Regions from separate parts of the Homo sapiens genome. Here region 1 is linked to region 2. Evidence: fine-mapped expression QTL. A gene starts in region 2. The other region holds a variant in brackets. All regions are shown on one strand. Distances are between the middles of the regions.

What was found. PIP is the estimated chance that this variant, and not a neighbour inherited with it, causes the effect.
Region 1: its variant is fine-mapped to the expression of TAFA2 in whole blood (INTERVAL, PIP above 0.99). The same link has a PIP of 0.9 or more in monocytes.

What each region holds. Positions count from the first base shown.
Region 1 is chr12:62,214,885-62,220,326 of GRCh38, forward strand. It overlaps a transcript of TAFA2 not described here. Among named protein-coding and RNA genes, the nearest start is that of TAFA2, 25 kb to the left of the region's middle. The variant A/G (reference allele first, on the strand shown) is at 2,195.
Region 2 is chr12:62,190,488-62,195,487 of GRCh38, forward strand. TAFA2 (TAFA chemokine like family member 2) reads right to left here and starts at 2,286. Exons shown (of 5, transcript NM_178539.5): 1 at 772-2,286. RefSeq lists an enhancer at 1,678-2,211 and a silencer at 3,581-3,875.

The DNA.
Region 1 (5,442 bases), 25 kb after region 2:
TTCTAATATAATATGCCTCAAAGCAGTGATAAGAAGGGATACCACTCTAGAGATACTATCTTTAAAGGCTCCATTTATTTTGATAACCATTTCTACTTACATCCCTGCACCAATTCTGAGACCCACTCTCCTGACTCAAAGGGGCCAGACTAGAGAGAAAAGGAAGTTGTGCAACTCTCACCTAAGAGAGAGTACTAAGAAGTGAAATCATTACTTTTGCACAAGCTATCTCTGTATATCCTCATAAGAGACCAAAACTTTCCAAGACAATCATACCTCCAGGTTTTGGAATTGAAGAACAAAAGTCAATGTCTACTTGTTCACATTTTGGGTTATTGGTAAGTCAATTTTTCACAAATTGTTTATTAATTGAATGCAGATGTGCAGTCACCAAAAGCAGCCCTGTGTGTCTTATCTCTAAATCATTTGAGTTTTCCCTTCTCAGTAGTTGCTCCAACAGTAGGAATAACCTGAAATGGGAAAAGGCAAGGTAATAGGATACAAGAATAACAAATTTTCCAGAACATCTCATAGCCTGGGGAAGTACTGACATTTTCACCAAGCTCTTGCTATTCAACTCTGCTTTTTAGACACAAAAAATTAAATAAGTACAATCTTACTCAGGGAAAATTTACTGCAGCCACAGTCTCTGCTGGAAAAAAGAAAGAACTTGTCTTTCAAAAAAAAAAAAAAAAGGGGCGGAAGAACTTGTTTCTCTTGCTTAAGAGAAACAACTCGTTTATCAAAAAAAAAAAAAAACAAGAGGAAGAACTTGTTTTTCTTGCTTAAGAGGAAGAACTTGTTTCTCTTGCTTAAGAGAAACAACTTGTTTCTCTTGCTTAAGAGAAACAACTTGTTTCTCAAAAAAAAAAAAAAAAAGAGATATGACACTTGCAAGTTACATTTTGTGTGACCTAAACTCCCTGAATCTTGGTTTCTTATTTGTAGACAGAGAGCTCTTATATAATAGCAGCTACTCTAATGATAATGGTTGTCATGAGCATCAAATGAAATTTTATAAGAATTGCTATTTGTAAAGACCAGTGGGTTTTGCCCATCAAAAGATGGGGTTTCTAGAGACCCTGTATCACCATGGCAAGTGAATAAAGTAACAGTTTCCTCAATCCTTCCCCAAGGGGACAGTACCAAAAGCCATTTTCTCAACTAAGAAAATACCCAAATGTTTCAAGGACTTTTGGACACAGAGTCTGAGTTGACACTAAAGCATCATTACATTCCTCTGTTAGAGAACCAGCATATGGGGGTAAAGTAACAAATGGAGTCTGGCCAAGTGCTATCCAATTGCGGGTCCACACACCTATCCAGTAGTCACTACTGCCATTGCTAATTGAATAACAATAGTGGACATGCTTGGTAATTAGCAGAACCCCCATGTTGGTACCTTAGACTGTGGAATAAGACCCATATAGTAGAGAAAGGTAATTTTAAACTCTGAAACTGCTCCTTCCCAAGACAGTAAATTTTAACAAACAGCATTTCATCTGTTTGTTAGTGTGGGTATTGGGGAAGTGGTGGCAGAGATTAATGACACCTTTAAAAACCTACATAATATTTGGTTGCTGATTTTCATCCTATTCCCTTTCAACTGACCAGCAAGGACCCTACAAAAAACAGACATATCTTGGAGAATGACAGTAAAGTAAGGCAAACTCGATCAGAAAAGTAGTTCCAACTATAGATGTTGTCCCAGATGTGGCTTCTTTGCTAGAGCAGATTACCACAAATTCTTAATACACAGTATACTATTGTTGATCTGAAAAACGCTTTATTTTCCAATCTTATTGGAAAGATCAGAAATGGTTTGAATTCACTTGAAACAGATAGGTGTATATGTTTACAGTCTTACCCAAAGCTAGGTTAATTCTTTTGCCCTCTGACATAATGTATTTCAAAGATGCCCGAACTGGTCATTTGTCAAAACATAGCATTGGTTCACTATTTCAGTGGTACCATATTAATTGGACTAGACAAGCAAGAAGTTAGCATATACATTACGGTATACCATATGCATTCCAGAGTGCGGGAGCTAAACCCTATAAGGGTTCAGGGAAATGCCATGTAGGTAGTATATGGGAGTCCAGTGATCTGGTACAAGCTGCGACATCCTCTCTAAATGAAACAAATTATTGTATCTTATATGTCTCTCCGCAAAAAGGGAAGCACCATGCCTGGT[A/G]TTCTGGTATTCCTCTTTGGCTAACATGTTTAACATATTACATATTGGCAAATACTGCTTTTACCCACCCTCTAGATAGCATGAAAGGCTACAAGCTTTGAGTGGGGTCCAAAGCAGCAGACAGCCCTGCAGCAGGTACAGGGAGTACTTGGGCCATATGATCCAGCAGACCTTTCAGTATGAAAAGCATCAGTAATAGGAAAAGATAATATGTGGAGTTTATGGCAAGGCCCTAAAGTAAAACCACAATGTAAATACCTAGGATTCTGGATCAAACCACTCCATCTGAAGTAAGGAGTTACACACCATTTTTTAAAATAAAAGCTCTCTGCAGTGCAACTGGGCCCTGGTAGACAGAGAGAAAAGACAAAGAGTCTAATTACAGAAGATCAAGTGATTAATGGACTAAAACTGTCTGTTATGAGGTAGGTTCTCCCAGAGCTGCCCAAGTCAGCTGAAGAAAGCCTCTTGCCCAAGATCAAGTCCCTTTCCAGAGGGAAGCTCATTTTCAGTGACTGATCCAGATGTAAAGTTATAAGGCCCAGCCCTTCCTTCAAAGTAGGCCAACTCTGAAGGGCCATACCTGTTCCAGAGCTTCCCTCGAGGTGGCTGAAGCCATTATCACAATTGCATCACAGCTCAGCTCTCCCATGAATATTCTTACTTCCTCTGCTCTCTCACAGATATCGATCCCAAGGACATTCTTCAGTAAACTTCTTTCAGACAAATTTGCATCTTAGAATCTTTTTTCCCAAGCAAACATACCTGAGATGGGTACTTACCAAAATGCTATTGAGTTGAGTAAGTGAAAATGAGCCAGGAGAAAAAAGTTTTACTTCTGAACTTTTCAAAACTAATGCTGATTGAATTTATCTATTTTTATGTATGTATTTATTTATTTATTTATTTATTTATTTATTTATTTATTTATTTTTGAGACAGGGTCTCACTCTGTTGCCCTGGCTGGACTGCAGTGATGCGATCATAGCTCACTGCAGCCTCAGCCTCCTGGGCTCAATAGATCCTCCCACTTCAGTCTCCCAAGTAGCTGGGACTACAGGCACGCACCGTCACACCGGGCTAACTTTTTAAATTTTTAGTAGAGATGAGGTCTTACTATGTTGCCCAGGCTGGTCTTGAACCCCTAAACTCAAGCAATCCTCCCCGCTCAGCCTCCCAAAGTGCTGGGATTACAGGAGTGAGCCACTGCACCTGGCCTGAATTTTAATTTGTAAAGAAAAAACAGTGGAAGAAAGGAAATGAGGGAAGGAAAGGAAAAGAGTCTCTCCTACCCGTGTCTGATGAACACATCCCCTATTACTTGAAATGCTAGTATGTGATCAGTTGGGTAGGCTCACATCCCTAGTTATCAAAGTGAGGGATAATGTTAGCCTGGAGAACTACCACAATTTGCTATTCAGCAAAGAAAAAGCTAAATATCCTAACCCAACCCGTACTGTGTTTGCCTCCTGTGAAAATTCTGAATTTCATTCACTCATTTAATAAATATTTATTTAGCACCTACAATATGTCAAGCACAGCTCTATATTTTATAATATAGTACTACTATCTTTACGATCTTTATAGCTTTAAATCTATGAATGAAATAGATGTTTCAGATATTCTTGGATATAATATTATACATAGCCATTTATTTTCTTTCTCTTTTTTTTTGTTGCTTTCTCATTGCAAGTCACAAAGTCAATAAATCAGTGATAATCAGAGTAGATATCTAAAGGACATTTAAATTGGAATAGTTTTCTATTTACCAAAGATATTCTGAAGGACATTTTTCAGGCTGTTACACATTTACATAGGAGATTCAATAATATCATACTTGCAAAGTAGCTAGACATTATGACATTTTGGATTTGAGATGATAGAATTAAAATGACAATATAAGAAAACTGTAATTTACACATAATTAGAAAAGATGAGGACAAAATAGCATTTTAATTACTGACAATGAATAACATACCAGGGAGAATATAGCAAAAGAAAATTTAGTGGGAAAACATTTTTGAAAACACACAAAACAACTTAAGTTTCTCACAGTAAGATTATATCTCTGCAAATTGATGAATAAAAATATGCTCCAGCTTTGAAAAAAAAAACTTAGGTTAACATAAAAGAATTCAAAAACAAAACTAAGAGAAATTCATCTGTGAAATTACTTAAAGTGTAGAGATGAAAAATTAGCTTCGGTTAAAACTGTAAATGAAATCATAGGTCACAATTTTATTAGTCTTTAATAGAAAACTTGAAGAAGTTGCTAACACAAGTGCTTTTGGAAATGCAAAGCATTGGCAGATACAGGAGAAGGTTAGAGAATATTTACACACAGCAACCCCAGAATTTAAATTAAATCTACAGTTAGTCTAAATCACATAAACCTGAATTTTTGTATACCAAGGATGAAGTTATTCGATAATAATCAAAAGTTAATTTTAATAGAAAATTCCAAGTCTTGTTGAATTGAACCTTTGAAATTGGGTGTTTGTTATAAAAGAAACTTATTTTCTAAAGAAAAGTTTGTTCACTTAAAGTTGTAAGCACTATTTGTCATAAGGGGTTGAATTTGCTCACCAAATTTACAATTAAATCACTGACTATATAACCTAACTGCTTTTAATATAAATCACTCACCCAGTACATGAAAACTGTGCCTCCTTCTATTAAGTTATAACTATATCTGCAAGTGTTCCTCTTTCAATAGGTTGTTAAAGTAAAGAAATGATTCTAACACATTACCTTTAAAACACAACACAAAATCTCATTCTTTTGCAGAAAATACTCAACAAGCTAAGCTGTAGATATGAACTATTTTTAAACCCAGTGATCAGCAGATCAAAGAGAATATAAGATGAAAACTGAAAATACCTAGTACATTTTGGGAAGTGGAAAAATCTAGAAGAAAGTTATGGAGCATTTTTAAACAACTAAATTATTGAAATGTTACCAAAAATAAAACAACTGCTCAGATGCAATTGTTTTATTTAATAAAGGCAAAACCTCACTAGAGGCAGAAACAAGCCACCAAATAAAAAAAACCTAATGAAGTTAGAACTAGAACAAAGTAAAAGTCAAATGAAAGAAATGGAAACAATAAACTCAAAGGAAAAATCATTTTAAAAACTAATCATTACTTTTAAAAAATTACAAAATTACACCCACTTACTAAAAAGGAAAAAACTACAAATTAATAAAATGAGAAATAAAATATAAAAAACAAGACAAAAAATTTTTAA
Region 2 (5,000 bases):
GAGACATCTAACCGGAAAGAAATAAAAAACCATTAGTTTCCCGAAGCCATTCTTATTCTGAACGCTGTTCGTTAAGAGAATCATTTACTAAAGCTCTCTTGTAGTAGCCTTTACAAAAGCTTTATTTCATTCAGTAAGAAAGCGCCCCGTCCCAAATCTAAATAAACCTTACATAGATGAGGCTCCGGAAATTATCAGCTTGATTCTTTATGAAGATAGTTAGAGGTGGATAAATCAATAGACTCGCTGAAACACCCACCTTCTGCAAACAGGCCTGAGAATTAACTAATCAGAAGTGGACAAAAAGTAGGGATTTCAGAAAGATGACCTGACACATCCCATTGATCTTCCCTGGAATGCGACCCCCAACTCCTTATTAAGAGTCCAAAATGGTTACCAGCCAGGATGGGTCTGGGTGAGGAATCGAATTACAACCCACTTCAATCCTCGACCTGGTCGTTTGCTGTTATTAGGAGAAATGGGGCAGAGAGGGAGGGCACCGCTCACGGAGCCTCATTTCGCATGCTCCGATCCCCTCTCGGCGTCCCTCTACTCCGCCCCTACCCTGACCGCCCGCGAGGGAGACGCCGGCCGATGGACCCGCATCTGCCCTCACCTCTCGCCTTCCCCGGGCGATCCCTCTACAGTCCCGGACCCCCGAGAAAGGGGAAGGGAGACGTGTGCACACGGGGGCTTCCGGGACCGCGGTCCTGCAGTTGCCGCTCCGGTCCCCAGCGCTGGCCGGCGACCCGAGGCGCGGCTCGCACCTACCTGCAGCCCCGCTTCCCGGTGGCGGCAACACCTAGCGATGCTCCTGCAGCTTTTGCGGGCCGGCGCCAGCCTTATCGCTCTCGCATCGCTTCCAAGATGCCAATCCGCCGTCACCATCCAGGGGCATAGGGAACCGAAGTCTGGTGCTGTGTGATCGTGGAGGGCGGCGTGTGAGTGTGGCCCTGAGCGTGCGAGTGTGCGCGCGCGTGTGTGGATGTGTTTCCTCCTCCGATGGCAAAGACGGTTCAGGAATCTGACATCCAAGCTGGAATCCCCCTGAAGCGGGTGAAGGTGAGCCTGATCCTTCTCCCCGCTTCTTTATTCCACAGTGTCAAAGTAATCAAAAGATTTGTTTACTGAGGAAAAGCCAAAGTCCCGCAGCCCTTGGCAGCGCCCGCGGTCGCCTCCTGTCCTCGCCGGATGCGCGCGGTGCGCTCAGCTCCCTGGACTGCAAGAATCAAGGCGGTCTTGCTGCAATTACCGCTCTTATTCCATCTCTGATTTGTTTGCTTTTAAGGCCGACTAAAGACTTTTCCTCTCGCCTCACGTCGTCTCTCCCTCTCACACACACACACACTCACACATCCTCCGTTCCCTCTCTCCCGCCCTCCCTCTTGTTCTCTGGGGAAAGGCAATTGGACAGAATGATTCACCTTCAGGAAAGCAGCCTCGGCCACGCACTTCTCGAGTTCCCTGGCTCTCGCAGGTACCGGGTCTCCAACGTGGCGGAGTTGCTGGGAAGCTCGGGACAGGAAGGAGGAGAGGCTCTGAGCTCAGCCGATGTCCCCCCTCCAGACGCCCGCGTTCCTCCGTCCAGGTGCCCCTGTTCCCACTGCTCGCAGATAGGTCCCCGCTGGTGCCCTCGCGGAGACTTGGCGCCTTCCACTCGAATCCACTTAGCAGCAACTCCTGGCCAGCTTCAGCCCCTCAATCCCGCCTCGAAGTGCTGCGGGCAGAGCCCCACGCAGCCCACCCGCTGCCCTTCTAGGCATCGTGGGCTGGAAGGAAGGGAAACCCGCCGATGTCCCCCTGGTAGCAGTGCCCTGGCACCGTCACCACCGAGGAGGTGCGAGTTCCAACATCGAACACAAGCGAGCAGGTGTCGCCTGTGTCACTTTGCTAAAGGCGGGAGGGGAGAAAGAAAGGAGCGGGGGGAGGGGGCCGAGGAAACAAATCCAGATCACCGGCGGAGAAAGAAGCCGTTTAGCAAGCAAAGCCTCCTCTCCGCGTCCCACCCCAGATGCTATACTGTCAAAAGACACTGATGCTAATCTTTTAGAAAGTCGCCATAAAGGGCAGAGCCCCTGCTCCACTCTAGAACCCTATTCCACCCAGCCTGGCTGTCCAGTGAGTACAGAGTGACTTGGCTCCCCCGTATAGTGCAGCGAGAATGCAGGAGAATAGGTCCTGACACTCCAGGTTGAGTTAAGCAGTAAAATGGAATGGCAGGGCCGGGCGGCGTTGCCTCGCCTCTCTCTCCCAACAGCCAGTTCTGTTAGCCCCAGCAACTGCCGTTGAGAGCAAACAACGGTCCTGCAGAAAAAGAACGAGACAGTAAAAGATGAGGAGGCAACTGGTATAAAAGCTGGACTATGTCTCCCTCTAGAGGGTCAACCGGATTAGAACGCTTTACTAGATGTAACAGACCAGTTTCTCTCCATAAAGAAAAAGAAAAAAATATCTGGTTTCAGATAATTTGCATTTTTACAAATTACAACTTCTCAAGGATTTAGACGGAGGATTTTCACTGCAGCCCTATTAAGCAAAGCCCTTGCTAAAGGAACGTCGTGATATTCATGACGCTGGAAGGTCATGTCCTTACATGTTTGGTCAAATTGGGTGTCGGTTTAAGCGCTGTGCATATGAGCTCAAATGAAGGGTCTTCTGAGGCTCACTTCGATCATGTTTGGAGATGAGCAAAACCTTAATCTAGTGATTAGAAGACTATTCAAAAATGAATAATTAGTAAGAATGAATTCAGAAAAAGAAAATCTGAAACAAAGAAAGGGAATGCTGACCCAGGAAATTTTACAAGTCCTTTACAAGGAAAGATAACTCAAGAATCTGGTTTTGGAGCCAGTTTTCATACCTCTTTTTCAACTAGACCAATAATGGTCAAGATAGCTAAATTCCTTCCAGCTCTAAAGGTCTGTGCTTTTATATAGCTGTGATTCACTGAAACCATTGACAAATTAGGTATCACAAGCTCTCTTCACCAGCTATAAAATAAAAGTAATACTACATACCATATTTACAAAGAAATATAGAATATGTGCTTCACTTAGCTATTTTATCTTAACATGCTTAGTAAATCAACCATATTTTGTATCTAAAATGCATCAAGTAATTTAATTATGTTGAGGTGGTCATTTTTATAAAAAATAGCTCCACCGATTTTATAAAGTTTTGTTACATCAGTCCAAATCAAGCTAGGTCCCATCTGTAACCTTAACATTTAGATTTTTGTGAACTTACTATTTGAGCTGGGGGTTTGCTTTCAAAATGTTTCTGTATGTTCAAAAATTGTAAAATGTGTATTAAAGTTATTATTAAACACCCTTCCATTCACTCTGAATTTCTGGAGCAGTTCTATTTTAACTTGATAATCTAAATTAGCACAGTCATAAAGAAAGAAAAGAATGTATTTTTTAAATAGCTGAGACTAGTTGAAATCATTTAAAACAAAGCACCAAAACTAAACAAGGCAAGTTTTACCGTAACTAATTGCTCTATGGCATATTTGACTTTGTCTAGTAGTATACAGCAATCATTTGTTTCCAAGGATCTCTCAGATAGTCTCTTTCAAAAGATTTATGCCATGTGATTAAATATTTCATTCCACTTACATAGTAACTTATATCCAGGAAAGCAACGTTTACATTTTAAAACACCTGGCACTGTTGCACTGCAAATCTTACAGTATTTTTTTGTCTGCTGTGTTCAATAGTGTGATGAAATTCAAGCAGGAATGACATTGGAAACTTGGACTCTGTACTAGAAAGAAGTCACTTACAAAATCACTTTAGAACATTGGCTTTCTTTTCACACACACACACACACACACACACATACAAAAAAACATAAAGCATACATTATAATCTTTCTACCTTCTAATTCATTAACTTTTTGTGGTTGTAATCTATAGTTTTGTCATCTTGTTAAAATTTTATTTGTATTGTTTAAGTGTGGGACATTTTCAGCCTTATTTTTCTAACTAAACCCACTGTGTTTTTACAATATATGAAAAAGTAAAGAGAACAGATATATAAATTAATTACAAAATAGAACAAAATTTCTTATCCAATGTCATATGATGCTGAAATTCTATCATAACCTCTGTGCTTTTTGTAAATAATTCCCAATAATTTTTAGATCAAGATATTCCTATTTCCAGCATCTCCTAGACAAAATAAAATCTTTTGCATTCTCTTCAAAGGAAACAAAGTAGTAAAGATTCTCCTAATTTAACAGAAATTTTTTGTTGATACTTCTTACCTTCTACAGGCATGCCTCAAAAATGTTGCAGGTTTGGTTCCAAACCACCACAAATATTGCAATAAAGTGAGTCACACAATTTTTTTGGTTTCTCAACACATGTGAAAGTTATGTTTACACCATACTGCAGTCCATTAGGTATGCAATAGCATTTTGTCTTAAAAATGTACATATCTTACCTTGAAAATGGTTTAATGCTTTTTTTAAAAAAAGTGTACTGATGATCTGAGCCTTCAGTGATTCCTAATCTCTTTGCTGATGGAGAGTCTTGTTTCAGTGTTGATGGCTGCTGATGGATCAGGGTAGTGGTTGCTGAAGGTTGGAATTGCTGTGGCGATTTCTTAAAATAAGACAATAATGAGGTTTGCTGTGTCAATTGACTCTTCCTTTCACAAAAGATTTCTCTGTAACATGCAATGCTGCTTGATAGCATTTTATCCACAGTAGAACTTCTTTCAAAATTGGAGTTAGTCCTCTCAACTCTGCCACTGCTTTATCAGTCAGGTTTATAAAATATTCAAAATCCTTTGTTGTCATTTCAACAATATTCACAGCATCTTCACCATGAGTAAATTCCATCTCAAAAAAAACTACTTTGCTCATCCACAGAAGCAACTCTTCTAGCATCTAGAATGGTGAATGATCTCCAGAAGCTTTTCAATTTACTTTGCCCAGATCCATCAGAGGAATCATTATCTATGACAGATGTAGCCTAGCAAAATATATTTCTTAAA